Regions from separate parts of the Homo sapiens genome. Here region 2 is linked to region 1. A link means that fine-mapping ties the variant in region 1 to the expression of a gene that starts in the linked region. Tissue or cell type: whole blood. Region 1 holds a variant in brackets; the other region holds the start of a gene. All regions are shown on one strand. Distances are from middle to middle.

Evidence for each region. PIP is the estimated chance that this variant, and not a neighbour inherited with it, causes the effect.
Region 2: it holds the start of PIGK, and the variant in region 1 is fine-mapped to the expression of PIGK in whole blood (INTERVAL, PIP 0.94).

What each region holds. Positions count from the first base shown.
Region 1 is chr1:77,159,466-77,167,465 of GRCh38, reverse strand. It overlaps PIGK (phosphatidylinositol glycan anchor biosynthesis class K), which reads left to right. Exons shown (of 11, transcript NM_005482.3): 5 at 636-747; 6 at 3,524-3,620; 7 at 5,755-5,872; 8 at 6,061-6,171. Among named protein-coding and RNA genes, the nearest start is that of PIGK, 56 kb to the left of the region's middle. The variant C/T (reference allele first, on the strand shown) is at 3,098.
Region 2 is chr1:77,214,795-77,222,958 of GRCh38, reverse strand. PIGK (phosphatidylinositol glycan anchor biosynthesis class K) reads left to right here and starts at 3,529. Exons shown (of 11, transcript NM_005482.3): 1 at 3,529-3,649. The coding sequence starts at 3,557. It overlaps LOC105378808 (a long non-coding RNA gene), which reads right to left and starts at 3,439. Exons shown (of 3, transcript XR_001738109.2): 1 at 3,306-3,439; 2 at 1,966-2,171. RefSeq lists an enhancer at 3,736-3,845.

The DNA.
Region 1 (8,000 bases):
AGCCAGATAAATAATTTTGCAGCTTTTTAGTAGTTTTTAAAGGCAGCACTTCACATAGCATTTAAAGTTTTAAATTCAGAACTTATTTTTCTCCAAGGTAGTTTTACTTTGCTTGTTTTTGTTTTTTGTTTTTTTCTAAGAGACATAGTCTTGCTCTCTTGCCCAGGCTGGAGTGCAGTGGTGAACTCCTGGGCTCAAATGAGCCTTCTGCCTCAGCCTTCTGAGTAGCTAGAACTACAGGAGCATGTTACCATACCTGGCTATTTTAAACATTTTTTGTGTGTGTGCATAGAAATGGGGTCTCACTATGTTGCTTAGGCTGATCTTGAACTCCTGCCCACAAGCAGTCCTCTTGCCTTGCCTCACAAAGTGCTGAGTTGATAGGCATGAGCCACCATGGCCTGCCTTCTTTGTTAGTTTTTAGTACTTTTAAAAATAGTAACAAAGTTACTTGGAGGTATATGTTTAAATGAATATATTTTAATTGAGTTATATAATTTTTGGGTGTTTTATTTTCAGTTGGTGCTGAGTAATATATGGAGAAAGAACAATGAACATTTTTGAAAGTAAAAAGTAATTTGTCAAGATTTCCCAGGTTTTATTTCATCTGATTTTTCTTGTTTTTTCCCCCTTAGGTAACTGTGGAGAATTTTTTACGGGTATTAACTGGGAGGATCCCACCTAGTACTCCTCGGTCAAAACGTCTTCTTTCTGATGACAGAAGCAATATTCTAATTTATATGACAGGTAATTTCATAATTTAGAGTTTTTATAGTAGAGTATATTGAAACTCTTTGAAAAGAAAGGCAAATGGAAAGAAATTTAAACACGTGAAATGATTTTTGGTTAAAATGGTTTCTCATGTAGTTATATTTTCCATAATGTAGAACTATTTGAGATGATATCTGAAAACAGTATAACATTTTGTGCTGTTCCTGATTTTCTTATCTCTATATTTTTTTACTATTGACTTGGTAAACTTAGCACCTTTTGCTTGGTATCCTGCTACAGCATCCTTCAGTTTTGTTCTCCTGCTAATCATCCTGTGAAAGTGTCTAATAGAAATTGCAAATCTGTCCCTCTTCTGCTTAAAACTTTATAATGGTTTTCCATCTCAAATTTTGCTGTACATGAAGATTACCAACTGTAGATACTTAGGCCTTATTTTAGAATTCTTACTTAATTTTCATCTGGGTTGGGATTCATGAAATTGCATTGTGGATATACTCCTCAGATATGAGATACAGTAGTCTTTTGATTATACTTTGAGGAATATTGGAGATAAAGTGTACCATAATATAATATAGTTATCATATGTATTACACATAATAATATATGTAATGATTTAGCTATATTATTTAGTTTGTCTTAGTTCTTAATACTTTTTCTAATTCTCTTCCAAGCTTGAATGTTCTGTCCTTCAAACATTTGTTTAAGCTCTTGCATTTGCTTATGACGTCTTTTCAGTCCACTTTGCCTGCTTGATTATTCCATATGGTTTTAGTTTTAGCTCAGGAGTCACTCCCTTCCATGACTTCCTTTCTAAGTCTAGGGTGACTGATGTTTCCAATTACCTGGGACAGTTGTAGTTTACACCTGTTGTCCCAGTGTTATTATTAATAGTTTCTGCTTTCTCCTTCAGAATTGGTATGAATAACACAGCTTACATTTTTCTTATCTAAAGATATTTCTCTTCTCCTTGGCTGGTCTGGACTTTCCTCTGTGCATGCCCATGTTAATTTTTAGTTTCTTTCATAGCATTTAACTTACTATTACTTTATTGTTTGGGTATCTGTTGCCTTCACTGTATTTTGAATTCCAAGATGTCATTGATTATATATTTCTTGCTTTTTTTTTTTTTTATCACCAGTTGCCTGTCTTGTAGTAGTATTCGGTAAATATGGATGTTAATCAAAAGATGTTCTATAAATTTTTTGGAGGGCATTCCATTCAACTGATGATAAAGCAGGTGCAGAATGATTCTTAGATATCACATGTCAACATAGTTAATGACCCCTACTTAGTGGCTTTTCTCTATCGTGTTGCATTTATTTATAACTTTCAAGGCTTAATTTATAAACTTTATAAATTAACTCAATAGAGTTAATGAAGCCAGGAAAAATTTTATTTTACTTTATCTGAAAATTACAAGGAATTTTCAAGCTTTTATGGCAAACAAGATGAAGTGCAGTTTTTTGTAGCTTAGCTTTATTTGATGTACTAAACTAAAGGATTTATTATTATTATTTTTTGTTTGTTTCCTGATTCTGTTGGAACTCTTTCAGGGTAACTGCAGGCTTGGAACAAATTCCAGTAGTTGAAGATAGGATTTGATAAACTATGGCCTGTGAACTGGCTGCCTGTTTTGGAAGTTTTATTGAAACACAGTTGCATCCATTTGGTTTACACAGTTTCTGTGACTGCTTCCATACTACCACAGCAGAGTTCAGTAGTTGTGCTAGAGACAATATGGCTCACAAGCCAAAAATATTTACTACCTGATCTTTTGTAGAAGGTTGCCAGGGTCTGTAAGAGAATAAAAACGTTGATAATTATGATAATATGATAATAATATTTATGGAGGCATAGTATACGTCAGGCAGTATTCTAAATCATTGTGGCTATTAACTCATTTCATTCTCACAGCAGTGCATTGACTTAGGTGCCGATATTCAAGGTTGCTGTATGTGGTTGTGTGGGTTGTATAGTGCACCCAAGAATCTGGCCAGGGTGTTAAGTGGGAACTGAAATCTCGTATGTGCTTACACTTACTAAGCGATCTGCCCTACCACAGGGTTGTATTCTAATGGAAGGGAGGGATACTTTTTTCTCCCACAAAGGCATAGTCAACTAACCACTTGTAAGCCTGCAGGGCTGCATGTATCCAAGAGGAAGGTGAGGAGACTAGTTTTTTTTTTCTACTTTCATGCCCAGTTGAAAGTACCTTTTAAAAACCTGTGCAAAGCAACTGTATAAGTAAGCTAATGATAGTGTTGCAGATACATTTCTCACTTTATGGCTGAGGAAACTGAAGCATAGAAATATTAAATTATTTTCCTAAACTAACATGGCATAGTTACCATTTGAATCCAGGCAA[C/T]CTGCCTCTAGATTGCATACAAATAGCACAATCTTCTGCTCCACCTCTTGTAGTAAAAATGTGGGACTAGCTAATGTCTTCAGCTTCTTTCTCATCAAAAATGTTTGCCTGGTATTTGAAACATTTTGTGAATGGAAACTCATTTCTGATATAATAATGGAGCCAGTGGAAGAGCATAAATATAGGTTTCTGTAATTGAATATTAGAAACCCTATTAAAGATATTATATCTGCTATTTTATATAGTCTATCATTCTCTTTTTAATTGGCATAGTAGAAAATTCAATTTGTTTGTTTTCATAGTATACATTTTAGAGTATAAAATAACAAGCGATGTCAAAATGTAATGAATGAAGTAAATGTATATATCTAGATATATGCAGTTTGCATTAAAAAATCTATTGATCTTTTTTACTCTTTATACAAGGGCATGGTGGAAATGGTTTCTTAAAATTTCAAGATTCTGAAGAAATTACCAACATAGAACTCGCGGATGCTTTTGAACAAATGTGGCAGAAAAGACGGTAATTAGCAAATTACTTCTTTTCATAAGCTATATTCATACCTAATTTTCACATGGTTCGTAGATTTGTAATTTTTATTTTTTAAGATTTTTAACTTATTTTGACAATTTCTTTGACTCTTTTAAATTTACATTTGTTATTTCCTCTGAACTGGGTTGTTTTTAAAAGAAAAACTGAGAGTTATTCTATAACATGAAATAGTTAACCTTTTAAGATTCCATCTCTTGTTATTTAGCATCTTTTTTAGAGGAAATAAGTGTCCCTCCAACCAAGTTAGCTATTATTATGGAGATTATGAACATCTGTTTATTTTTCAACTTGTACCTATTCTTTCTAGCTCATTCTTTGGCCCCTAATGTTATAGACGTATTTCTTCTATGGAAAAAAAAATCGCTGAAATTATGATTAGCATAAAATTTGTAACAACTCACATTAAGGATGATTGTTAGTAACCCTTGCTAAGCATCTCTTTAGTTGGAAGCTGTCATGCATATGACTGTAAGTGAAAAAACTTTTAACTTGATTACTTTCAATAAACACTTATAGGCTATCTTCCATTCCTATGGCAGAAAGTGGAATATGATGCTTATTCTGCCTTCAAAGTGTTTACAATCTAATGGAAAAGAGAAATATGTATACAATGATGCTACAAAATAAATACTGTAATGTTAAAATAAAAGCATAAGCAATGTGTGGAAGTGTTGAGGAAGCTTTTACTAGGCACTGATTATGTCTTATTCATAGCTTACAGTTATAGAATGCATACTGGGGGCTGCATACTGTATTTTACATCTATTGTCTCATTTAATTTTACAACTCTATGGGGTAGATACTATTATTATTCCCTTTTTACAAGTGAGTGAACTGAGGCACAGAAAGATTAAATAACTTGTGGAACTTTACACAGCTAGTAGTAACTTGCCAAACTTGACACAGCTAGGATTCATGCCCAAATGGTTCAGTCCTAGAGCTTGCTCTCTTGTTTACTCCACAACCTCTCCTAACTTTGGGTGTTTCTAATGCATAGGAGCCTCCACATATTTTGCCACAGAACAAATGTGTCATATTAATTGTGTCTCCTGTCACTTTCTTCGATGATACTGTGGTTCAAGATTCAATGCTTTGTTTTCTAGGTTCCATGTTAGCTGTTTACCTAGACCCAGTGTCTGAGAAAAACTTCCCAGAAAATATGTCTCCTCTCTACTTTAACTTTTGCCAGCTAGCCAGCTTATTGTGCAATGGATACCTGATTATATTATTCTTTCATTAAAACAACAACAAAAACAAAAACCTTTCATGGTTTCTCCAAACTTATAGGATAAGATCCAGACTTCATATGGTATCCTTTACAAATTGAACCTATTCTACCTTTTTGAAACCAATTTCCCTCCATTCTCCCAAATTTACTTTAAATCCTAGCTACACAGATCTGTTCCCAAGCACTTATACTTTTTTACATTATGTGCTTTTCTCTCTGCTGGAATGTCATCTTCTTTTCTCTGTAAAACAAAATAACATCCCTCATTGTCCGTATTGGGCATCACCTTTCTCTGATCTGCTTTTCTTTGCAGTTCCTCCTTAGTCCTTTCTCAGTGTTCATTCAACACTTTGATTTTGTTAGACTCTAGGCTATATGAGGGCAGGGACTATTGCATCTCCAGCATAATATCAGGCACATTGTAGGCACTCAATATATATTTATAGTACTCATCACGTTCCAATGTAGTTGTATGTTTGTCTGTGTTCCACTTAGAGTTTATGCTCTTTGAGTATAGTTACTAAGTCATACTTCTTTTTCTGAACCTAGCTCAATTTCTATGACAGCATGGGTGCCAAATAAGTGCTTGTTGAATGGAATATTCATTTAGATTCTGAATTATATGGCATAGACAAGGAAGAGGGAAAAGAGCTGGGGCAGCCACCTTGGGCACAATAAGACTCGCTGTGGTTTCCTTGGACAAATTTATACCTTTAACTTTTCTGAGGTCAAATTTCTGTTGGGAATTCTGCTGAAAACTTTTAGCTAATGAAATGACTAAGATATGATTTAAACATCTTACAAAAGTATTGTAGAAATATTAGTGTATGATTTACAGCATGATCCTTGTCAAAGATGTTATCATTTTTCTTTCAGCTACAATGAGCTACTGTTTATTATTGATACTTGCCAAGGAGCATCCATGTATGAACGATTTTATTCTCCTAACATAATGGCTCTAGCTAGTAGTCAAGTGGGAGAAGATTCACTCTCGGTATGTGCATTTTCCCCATTTGTAAACTGTGTCTTTGGAATGTGCAGCTATTTCTGAAACCAATTAAATGCTTTATGAATGTATCTGTTCTTTCTTAGACTAATACATTAGAAGGAAATTTTGGTTACATTTAAAACATTTTGTTATAATGATACTGTTAGAAATACTTTTTTTCCCCCTTTCCATAGCATCAACCTGATCCTGCAATTGGAGTCCATCTTATGGATAGATACACATTTTATGTCTTGGAATTTTTGGAAGAAATTAACCCAGCTAGCCAAACTAATATGAATGACCTTGTAAGTATTCACTTGATTTGATTATAGCACATAGGTATGCTAACCTTAATGTGAAAAGAAGTGTATTATTCCCTGCACTCCTAGAGGATCTTGTTTTATGTGTTGAATTATAGCTTTTAAAACTATTTGATATCTACCTTTTACCTGTATATTAGTATTTCTCTGTCTCTCTACAAGAGGCCTGATGTTTTCCTTTATTTACTCATTTTCTTTTCCTTACCAGAAATGTACTTTTTTTAGATTCAACTTTTGAAATTCTACATATTCTTCAGGGGCCACCTCAGATTGTGTCTCCTTCAGGAAGTCTCCCCGAATTCTTCCCTGTGGGAATTTCTTGTTTTTTTTCAGAGCCTCCATAGACCTTTATTTCTCCTTGGTAACATTTACCACAGTCTTTTATTGACCTTACTAATTGAATGTAAGTCTTTCTCACTGAATGGGAAACTCCTGGAAAAGAGAGACCTTTTCTTACATATTTTTGTGGGCCCTACAATTTATAGTATAGTCATTTGACAAGGCTTGTTGAATTTAATTTAGATTTTTTTCCTGAATTTTTTTGTGCTGATTCTTTTCATTAAATCTACTTTGAAGTTGCTGTTGAAAGTAGGCATAACAAAAAGCTTGAAACAACAATTCTAGACTGGATAATTTACTATGTGTCAATGACTTTCATTCTTTTCTCCATTAATTTATAGTCTGTTTATTCTTTCATAAATGTTTCTTGAGTGTTTGCTAAGTGCCAAGCACAGGCTGTTCCTAATGAAAGAGGCAGATGCCGTTCCTGCTTTCATGGGACTTAGAATGAAGGTGAGACTGAGTAGACAGGGCTCTGTCCTCTAGCACTTCAGCCAAGCAGCTTTGCATTGATCTCTTTAATTATATATAAATCTTTTAGGTAAATTCTCAGATTCTGAAGCCCACTGCTATAGGCTGTGAAATTTGATAGAACTACTGTATTAGTTCATTTTCATACTGCTATGAAGAAATACCTGGGCCTGGGTAATTTATAAAGAAAAAGAAGATTAATGGACTCACAGTTCCACATGGCTGAGGAGGCTTCATAATCATGGCAGAAGGTGAAGGAGGAGCAAAGGCACATCTTACATGGTGGCAGGCAAGAGAGCGTGTGCAGGGGAATTACACTTTATACAACCATCAGATCTCATGAGAACTCACTATCATGAGAATAGCATGAGAGTAACTGCCCCACATGATTAAATTACCTCCCACCAAGTCCCTCCCATGACATGTGGGAATTATGGGAGCTACAATTCAAGATGAGATTTGAGTGAGGACACAGCCAAATTATATCATTCTGCCTCTGGCCCCTCCCAGAGCTCCTATTCTCGTATTTCAAAACCAATCGTGCCTTCCCAACAGTACTCCAAAGTCTTAACTCATTTCATCATTAACTCAAAGTCCACAGTCCAAAGTCTCATCTGAGACAAGACAAGTCCCTTCTGCCTGTGAGCCTGCAAAATCAAAAGCAAGTTAGTTACTTCCTAGATACAATGGGGGTACAGGCATTGGGTAAATACACCTGTTCCACTTGGGAGAAATTGGCCAAAACGAAGGCACTACAGGCCCCATGTAGAAATCCAATAGGGCAGTCATTAAACCTTAAAGTTCCAAAATGATCTCCTTTGACTCCATGTCTCACATCCAGGTCACATATGAAAGACGTGGGCTCCCATGTCCTTGGGCAGCTTTGCCCTTGTGGCTTTGCAGGATACGGCCCCCATCCTGTTTGCTTTTACGGGCTGGCATTGAGAGTCTGTGGCTTTTCCAGGTACACAGTGGAAGCTGTCAGTGGATCTACCATTCTGGGA
Region 2 (8,164 bases), 55 kb before region 1:
TGGCATTTTGCCCCTGCCCTAGTTATCTGTGGAACTTTGAACTTTAGAGAGATGATTTAGGGTACCTGAGGGAAGAAATTTCTAAGTGGCAAAGCGTTCAAGAGGAAGCAGAGCATAAAAGGAAAACTTGCAGCCTGATGACGTGATAGAAAAGAAAAACCCATTTTTTGCGGAGAAATTCAAGCCTGCTGCAGAAATTTGCATAAGTAACAAGAAGCCACATGTTAATTACCACGACAATGGGAAAAATGTCTCCAGGGCATGTAAGAGGTCTTCCTGGAAGTCCCTCTCATCACAAGCCAGGAGGCCAAGGAGGAAAAATGGGTTTATGGGCTGGGCCCAGGGCCTTGCTGCTTTGTGCAGTCTCAGGCTGCTCACATGTGATATTGGGACTGTGGGTGCACGGAAGTCAAGAATTGAGGTTTGGGAACCCTGCCTAGATTTCAGAGGATGTATGGAAACACCCGGATGTTCAGGCAGAGGTGTGCTGCAGGGGCAGGGCCCTCATGCACGACCTCTGCTAAGGCAGAAGGGCAATGCAGAAGGGAAATGTGGGGTGGGATCCCCCACACAGAGTCCCCACTGGGGCAGTGCCTAGTGGAGCTGTGAGAAGAGGGCCACCATCCTCCAGACCCCAGGATGGTAGATCCACCAACAGCTTGCAGCATATGCCTGGGAAAGCCAGAGACACTCAATGCCAGCCTGTTAAAGCAGCTGGGAAGGAGGCTGTATCTTGCAAAGCCACAGGGGCAGAGCTGCCCAAGACCATGGCAACCTACCTCTTGTATCAACGTGAACTGGATGTGAGACACGGAGTCAAAGCAGATCATTTTGGAGCTTTAAGATTTGACTGCCCTGCTGGATTTTGGACTTGCATGGGCCCTGTAGTCCCTTCATTTTGGCCTATTTCTCCCATTTGGAATGGGTGTATTTACCCAATGCTTGTACCCCCATTGTATTTAGGAAGTAACTTAACTTGCTTATGATTTTACAAGCTCATAGGCAGAAGGGACTTGCCTTGTCTCAGATGAGACTTTGGACTGTAGACTTTTGAGTTAATGCTGAAATGAGTTAAGACTTTGGGGGACTGCTGGTAAGGCATGATTGCTTTTGAAATGTGAGGACAGGAGATTTTGGAGGGGCCAGGGTGGAATGATATGGTTTGGCTGTGTCCCAACCCAAATCTCATCTTGAATTGTAGCTCCCATAATCCCCAAGTGTCAAGGGAGGGACCTGATGGGAAGTAATTTAATTATGGGATCAGTTACCCTCATGTTGTCATGGTAGTGAGTTCTCACGAGCTCTGATGGTTTTATTTATCTATCTATTTATTTATTTTTATTTTATTTCATTTTATTTTTTGAGACAAAGTCTGGCTCTGTTGCCCAGGCTGGAGTACAGTAGCGTGATCTTGGCTCACTGCAACCTCTGCCTCCCAGGTTCAAGCGATTCTCCTGCCTCAGCCTCCCTAGTAGCTGGTATTACAGGCATGTGCCCCCACACTGAGCTAATTTTGAAACATGGGGTTTTGCCATGTTGGCCAGGCTGGTCTTGAATGCCTGACCTCAGATGATCTGCCTGCCTCGGCCTCCCAAAGTGCTAGGATTACAGGTGTGAGCCACTGCACCTGGCCTCTGATGGTTTTATAAAGGGTAGTTCCTCTGCACATGCTCTCTCACCTGCTGCCATGTAAGATGTGCCTTTGCTCCTTCTTCATCTTCTACCATGATTGTGAGGCTTCCCCAGCCATGTGGAACTGTGAGTCCACTAAGCCTTTTTCTTTAGAAATTATGCAGTCTTGGGTATTTCTTCATAGCAGTATGAAAATGGGTTAATACAAGTAAAGTCTCATCAAAGTGTGGGTATGAAGTTACATCTGGTCATGAATTTGAGGCATAATCATTAATCTTGTCAGACATTATCTTATGTACAGGAAGAGGCAAGGGCTAGGATCACCAAACTTACCTTTTGTAAAAATTCAGTGATTCAGGCAAGAGATGTGCAAACCTATTCCCTATCCTGCTTATGGTCTTCAAGGCATTCTTCCACAAGGCTGCTCACAGTCAATGAGTCAGGGGCTTTGTGAAATATTGCTGGCAAAGGAGCAGAATGAGCAAATGGCTTCTTATCTTTGCTACTTTGTTTCATAATCATCAGCATCCAATAGATATCTGTTGAATTAATGAATACATGGAAGATATTCTGGCAGTGTATTTACTTTCTAGGATTCACGTAACGGAAAACCTAAATTTGACTAAATAGCATGAAACCTCTCACAAAGTGCAATAGCAAAAGAAACAAATAAAAGGAAAAGAGAGACAAGAGAATGGGAAAAGCAATAGCATAAAATATGGCAAAGGCTAATGTTACTTATTTATAAATATATTATTCAAATTCATATGCAAAACATAAATATATAAACAAAGAATTTACATCAGAGGACACAGAGATAGTTTAGAAACACAAGAAAGACATCAGATCTTGATAGTAACCAAAGAATTATAAGTATAGTTACCTAGGGGTAACATTTCATACCAAAGAATTTAAAGGAAAAAAAATGGTATGGTTTGGTGTTGTGTATTCTGATAGTGCTGTAAGCTTGTTCATTTTGGAAAGCAACATCATTTATAGTTATTAAAATGTTTTGGAATATTTTGACCCCAAATTCCTAGTTCAGGAAAATTATACAAACAAAATAATTCAACAGATTTAAAAAGCCAAACACACAAAAGATACTCTTTACAATATTATTTTCATAGTAAAACTTAAAAACTTTGCATTGTGCAGCAGAGGGACAATTACTTTGGCTGAGGCATCAATAATGGATGGAATTTTATCTCACCATTAAATGTTAAAATTGTGAGGAAGCAGCGTGGAAACGTTTATGTCATACTAGATGAAATGCATAAATTAAAACTGAACTCACATAATAAAGAGAATGGTGGACCATACATATACACCAGCTGTGTCTCTTCCAGATAGGCTTTAGTTCCATAATTACAGAAGATACTCAAGAAACAAAAACGTAACTAGCTTCCCATGTTAATCCTTTCACCAGGTAGTAGACCCCAAGCCTCTAAATTGCAGCGCCCACCCACATTTTCCATTTATAGTTTATCCAATTAATCATCTTTTTGTGCCAAAACGCTTGTTCTTCCCACCACATCCAGCTTCATATTTTCAAAGAATTGGCAGCACTCGGCAAAATAAATAAATAAATAAATAAATAAATAAATAAAATAAATAAGGGAACAGAGAAATAAGTTTTTAAAGTTTAAGGAGTTACGGGTTTTCCCTCCACTCACCTTTCAATTTTTTTTCTTAAATGTTATACCTATTTTACAACCTCCAAACTGAAAATGCAGTTAAAAATAAAAAGGTCAATATCCTGCGTCTACCTTGTCCCGGACTCTCGAGCTCCACAAAACCGCAGAGTTCTAAAGCCGGACCAGAGGGCCACCTCGAAGAGGCGCGGATGGTGTCGCAAAAACCCGCAGCGCTACTTTACGGCACTGCCTCCGCCCCTTCAGGTGCGGGAAGTCTGAAGCCGGTAAACATGGCCGTCACCGACAGCCTCAGCCGGGCTGCGACTGTCTTGGCAACTGTGTTGCTCTTGTCCTTCGGCAGCGTGGCCGCTAGTCATATCGAGGTAGGAGTCAGGCTCATTTGACCACAGCCGGGAGGCCGGCTGTGAGCCCTCCAGCAGATGTCCGATACACAGTAGCTGAGGGACGCCTCCTGGAGTCAATCAGCCCCTGACCCAGGCTGGGTTTGAGGAGGGTATCACTGGGCACGGGTTAGGACACTGTTGGTCTGTTTCAGCGTTTTAAAACGATGAATTGAAATAATCAAACCCTCGGAGACAGAGGAGGACCTGATCCTTTGCTCCTACATGTGTGCAGTTCTTAGGTGAAATACGAGCAAGAGGCTCGTGAAATGTCAGTGTGCAGCAACTGCTTTCCTACTACTCAACTGCAGCCCTCTGTTTTGATAGGAGTCAGACGGAACTGGAGAGATGAGGGCAATTTTAAGAATCCAGATAATAGAATTTAGTGATAATTAGAACATGGGATAAATATAAGTGTTTATTAAAACTCTCAAGTTTCTGGCTTAGGGGCAACACGTCTGGGTTAAGAAATGGAAGAGAAAAGGGGTGCTTAGTTTTATCCTGGGCTCCTCCAGCTTCCCATTTTTAAACGTGGACACAGGATGTTCTGGTGCTCTATAATGCTTTTACTATTCACCATACTCTGATGATTCCTCAGTCCCGGTCTACAATCTAGATGTCTGGTATCTTTTTCAGGCCTGCATATCCAGCTGACTAAGAATCCGGGATAGTCAGGAGACATTTGAAAATCCGTGTGCAAAGTTTTATCTTCTGCTTATCCTACCTCCTCTTAAAAAGACACTGAAAAACTAAGCACCCCTTTTCTCCTCCATTTCTCAACCAGATGTGCTGCTCCTAAGCTAGAAACCTGAGAGTCTTAATCTCTTTATCCCATATTCTAATTATCACTAAATTTTGTGATCTGAGTTCTTAAAATTGCCCTCACCTCTCCAGTTCCACTGACTTAATTCAGGCTGTGATCACTTCTTGTCTAGACTCTTGCGATTACTTTATCTTGTTTTCCATAGGCCTCCATACTCCCTGAGTTTGGTGCTAGATTCGTCTACACGAAATGTAAGCCTGATCAGGTTATTCTTCTGATGAAATCTTTTAAATATTTATTAATTGCATACAGAATAAAGTCTAAACGTTATGACCTGGTGCTTGCCTACTTTTCCAGTGTTCCATATTGGAACCTCTTCTCCCCACCACCTGGGCACCTTGAGCTTAGACCAGTGGACTCCAAACTTTTTGAATACACACCCTATCAGTTAAAAAAAGATATTGAGCATGAACTTCATATATATTTATGAATTACTGTTAATTTATATATTTGATGTTTATATAGCATAATTTTTAGAGAACATAAATATGAGTAAATAGAAGTTCTGTTTCCCTCCTTTATTCTAACTTTGACTGCTTCATCTTGGATACTATTACTGTTTTTTGTAGTTACATAATTGCTGTGCTTTTTCACATTACAATATTTTATACATTGTGTTTCCTCTGTTCATGTGCTAAGATACAGTAAAGGCATAACCTCTGTAGAACGTTTCCCTATCTCTTACCTTTGCCTTTACTCTTGTAATTTGTACACTTGATACAGCACTCATTTACTATAACCCGTGTATGGTTTGTACTGTTATTCCATCATATCTCACTTAGAGATAGGAGCAACAGTTTCCTAAATGTTTTGCCTTGAGTCGTTGTTTTTTCCTTTCAATCTGTTCTCCAAATTGAAGCCAGAGTAACTTTTAAAAATGCAGTTCCAATCATGTCACCCAGGGACCTTGATGTTGCTCAAAAGATCACCTTAATGTTGCTCTAAACTCTCCACCATGACCCACAAACAAAAACCCTGCATATTTTTTGGGCCCTGACTACACTTCAAATTTTTTCTTTCTCTTTCAAACTTCTAGTTAGGCTAACTTTCTTTCAGTTTCTCAAAACCTTTAAGCTTTTTCTCACATTAGAGCTGTCTCCCCTCTGTCTGGAATTGTATTTCCTCTTTTCTTCATCTTTTGGATTTTAACCCAACAGTCACTTCTTTAGGAAAACTTTCCTGACCAGGTCAGGTCCCTCTGTTGTACTCTTATTATATTGTGTGTCTTTCCTTATCTGTTAAATGTATATCTATCCAATTAGATAGTAACCTATTTGAAGGCAGTACTATGGCTATTTTTGCCCAGCATTGTATTTGGAGCACTCAGGGCAGTGACTGGCATGTTGCCCAATGAGTGTGATGAATTAATGAATGTAATAATTATAGTGTAATGTGTTTGCATGCTCCTCTTTATTGAACTCTGGATTCTTGAGAGAAAGCAGCATGCTTTTTAGTGATTTTTGTATCACTATATATTAATGGTATCTGGCACATAATAGGTGCTGCATTTACTGTATGTAGAATGAATAACTTTATAATGACTGTATTGTCTAGACAACCACAAAAAAGTTTTGCCATCTAAATTTTTTCACTAAGGTCTGAAAGAAGTAAGAACTTTGGAGGTGGAAGGCACATTAGAGACATGAGGATAGTCAAGTCTAAAGAGCTAAATGACTTACCGCAATTTCACAGCCAGTTGCGAGATAGGACCTAAATTTTAGCTTAGGTCTTTGAATTCCCAAATCAATGCTTAACCACTGTAGCACATTGCTTTCTTTAACATCCAGGCAGCTGTTGAGTTTGGAGGGGGAAAAATACACACACACACACCCCCCCACACACACATGCCACACACACACTTTTTGTTCAGGTTATTATTCTATATTTATCATGTCAATTTATCAGAAACAATGCTTAACAATAGACAACCCATTATAGTTTCATTTAATGTGAAATACTATGTTATTGCCTTGCTAAATTAAGGGTATTTTATCCTAGCCATAGTAATTTCAGAGATCAGTTTTTTCCATCTCTATTGGTAGTTAACGTAAGAATTAACTTGTATTACTACAGCAAATGATATTCTAATGAAAATTGATATTCTTGAGGGTTACATGTACACTCTAAAATCTGTTAATGATATTTCACAAATCTCCAGAAATAGATACTTTACTTTCTGACCAATGTTGTATTCTCTTTAAGCGATGCCTCTCTTTTTGTAATATGTATATTTTAATTGGCACAATAATTGTGCATATTTATGGGGTATATAGTGTGATATTTTCAGACATATTCAATATGAAATGATCAAATCAGAGTAATCAGCATATCTGTCACCTCAAAACTTTATCATTTCTTTGTGTTGATAATATTCAAAATGTTAGAAAAGATTTCTAGGTAGTTGAGAAAATATAATAAATTATTGTTTACTATAGTTACTCTAAAGTGCTATAGAAGGCTAGAACTTATTCCTGCTATCTGTAATTTTGTATCTGTTAACGAATGTCTCTCTGTACTCCCCCCGTCACCTTCCTATTCTTCCCAGCCTCTATTCTACTCTATTTCCATGAGATCAAGTTTTTAAAAATGTCCGTATCTGGGTGATATTGAAATTAAAAAATTTAAATTTCTGTGCCTGACTTATTTCACTTAATGTAATTTCCTCCAGGTTCATCCACGTACCTGTTTATGAAAGGATTTTATTCTTTTTATGGATGAATAATACTCCATTTTATATATACACGTGTGTGCACGCACACACACACATTTGCTTTATCCATTCATCTACTGATAGACACTCAGGTTGATGCTATATCTTGGTTATTGTGAATAGTGCTGCAATAAATATGGAGTGTAGATATCTCTTTGGCCTACTGGTTTCCTTTCCTTTGAATATATGCCCAGTAGTGGAATTGCTGGATCATATGGTAGTTTTATTTTGAGTGTTTTGAGGAGCTTCCATACTGTTCACTATAGTGGCTATACTAATTTACATTCCCACCAGCAGTGTATAAGAATTCCCAATTCCCTTTTGTCTACATCTTAACTAGCATTTGTTATTTTTTTGTCTTTTTGATAATAGGCACTAAGATGATATCTCATTGTGGTTTTGGTTTGCATATCCTTGGTGATTAGTGATATTGAGCATTTTTTCATACACTTGTGGGCCATTTGTATGTCTTTTGAGAAATATCTATTCAGATCCTTTGCTCGTTTTTAATTAGATTATTTGGTTTTTTTTGCTGTTAGCATAAGTTTGAGTTCCTTGTATATTTTGGATGTTAATCCCTTATTGGATGAATAGTTTGCAAATATTTCAGGATTGCTTTTCTATTTCTGTGAAGAATATCATTGGTATTTTGATAGAGATTGCATTGAACTGTAGATCACTTTAGGTGATGTGGTCATTTTAACAATACAGTATTTATTCTTCCAATTCAATGCATGGAAGCATTTTCATCTTTTTGTGTTCTCTTCATTTTCCATCAATATTTTGTAGTTTTCATTGTAGAGATTTTTCACTTCTTGGTTAAATTTATTCCTAGGTGTTTAATTTTTCTGTAGTTATTGTAAGTGGGATTGCATTCCTGATTTTTCTTCAACTAGTTCATTATTGGTATATAGAAACGCCATTGATTTTTGTCTATTGATTTTTGAGTCTTGCAACTTTACTG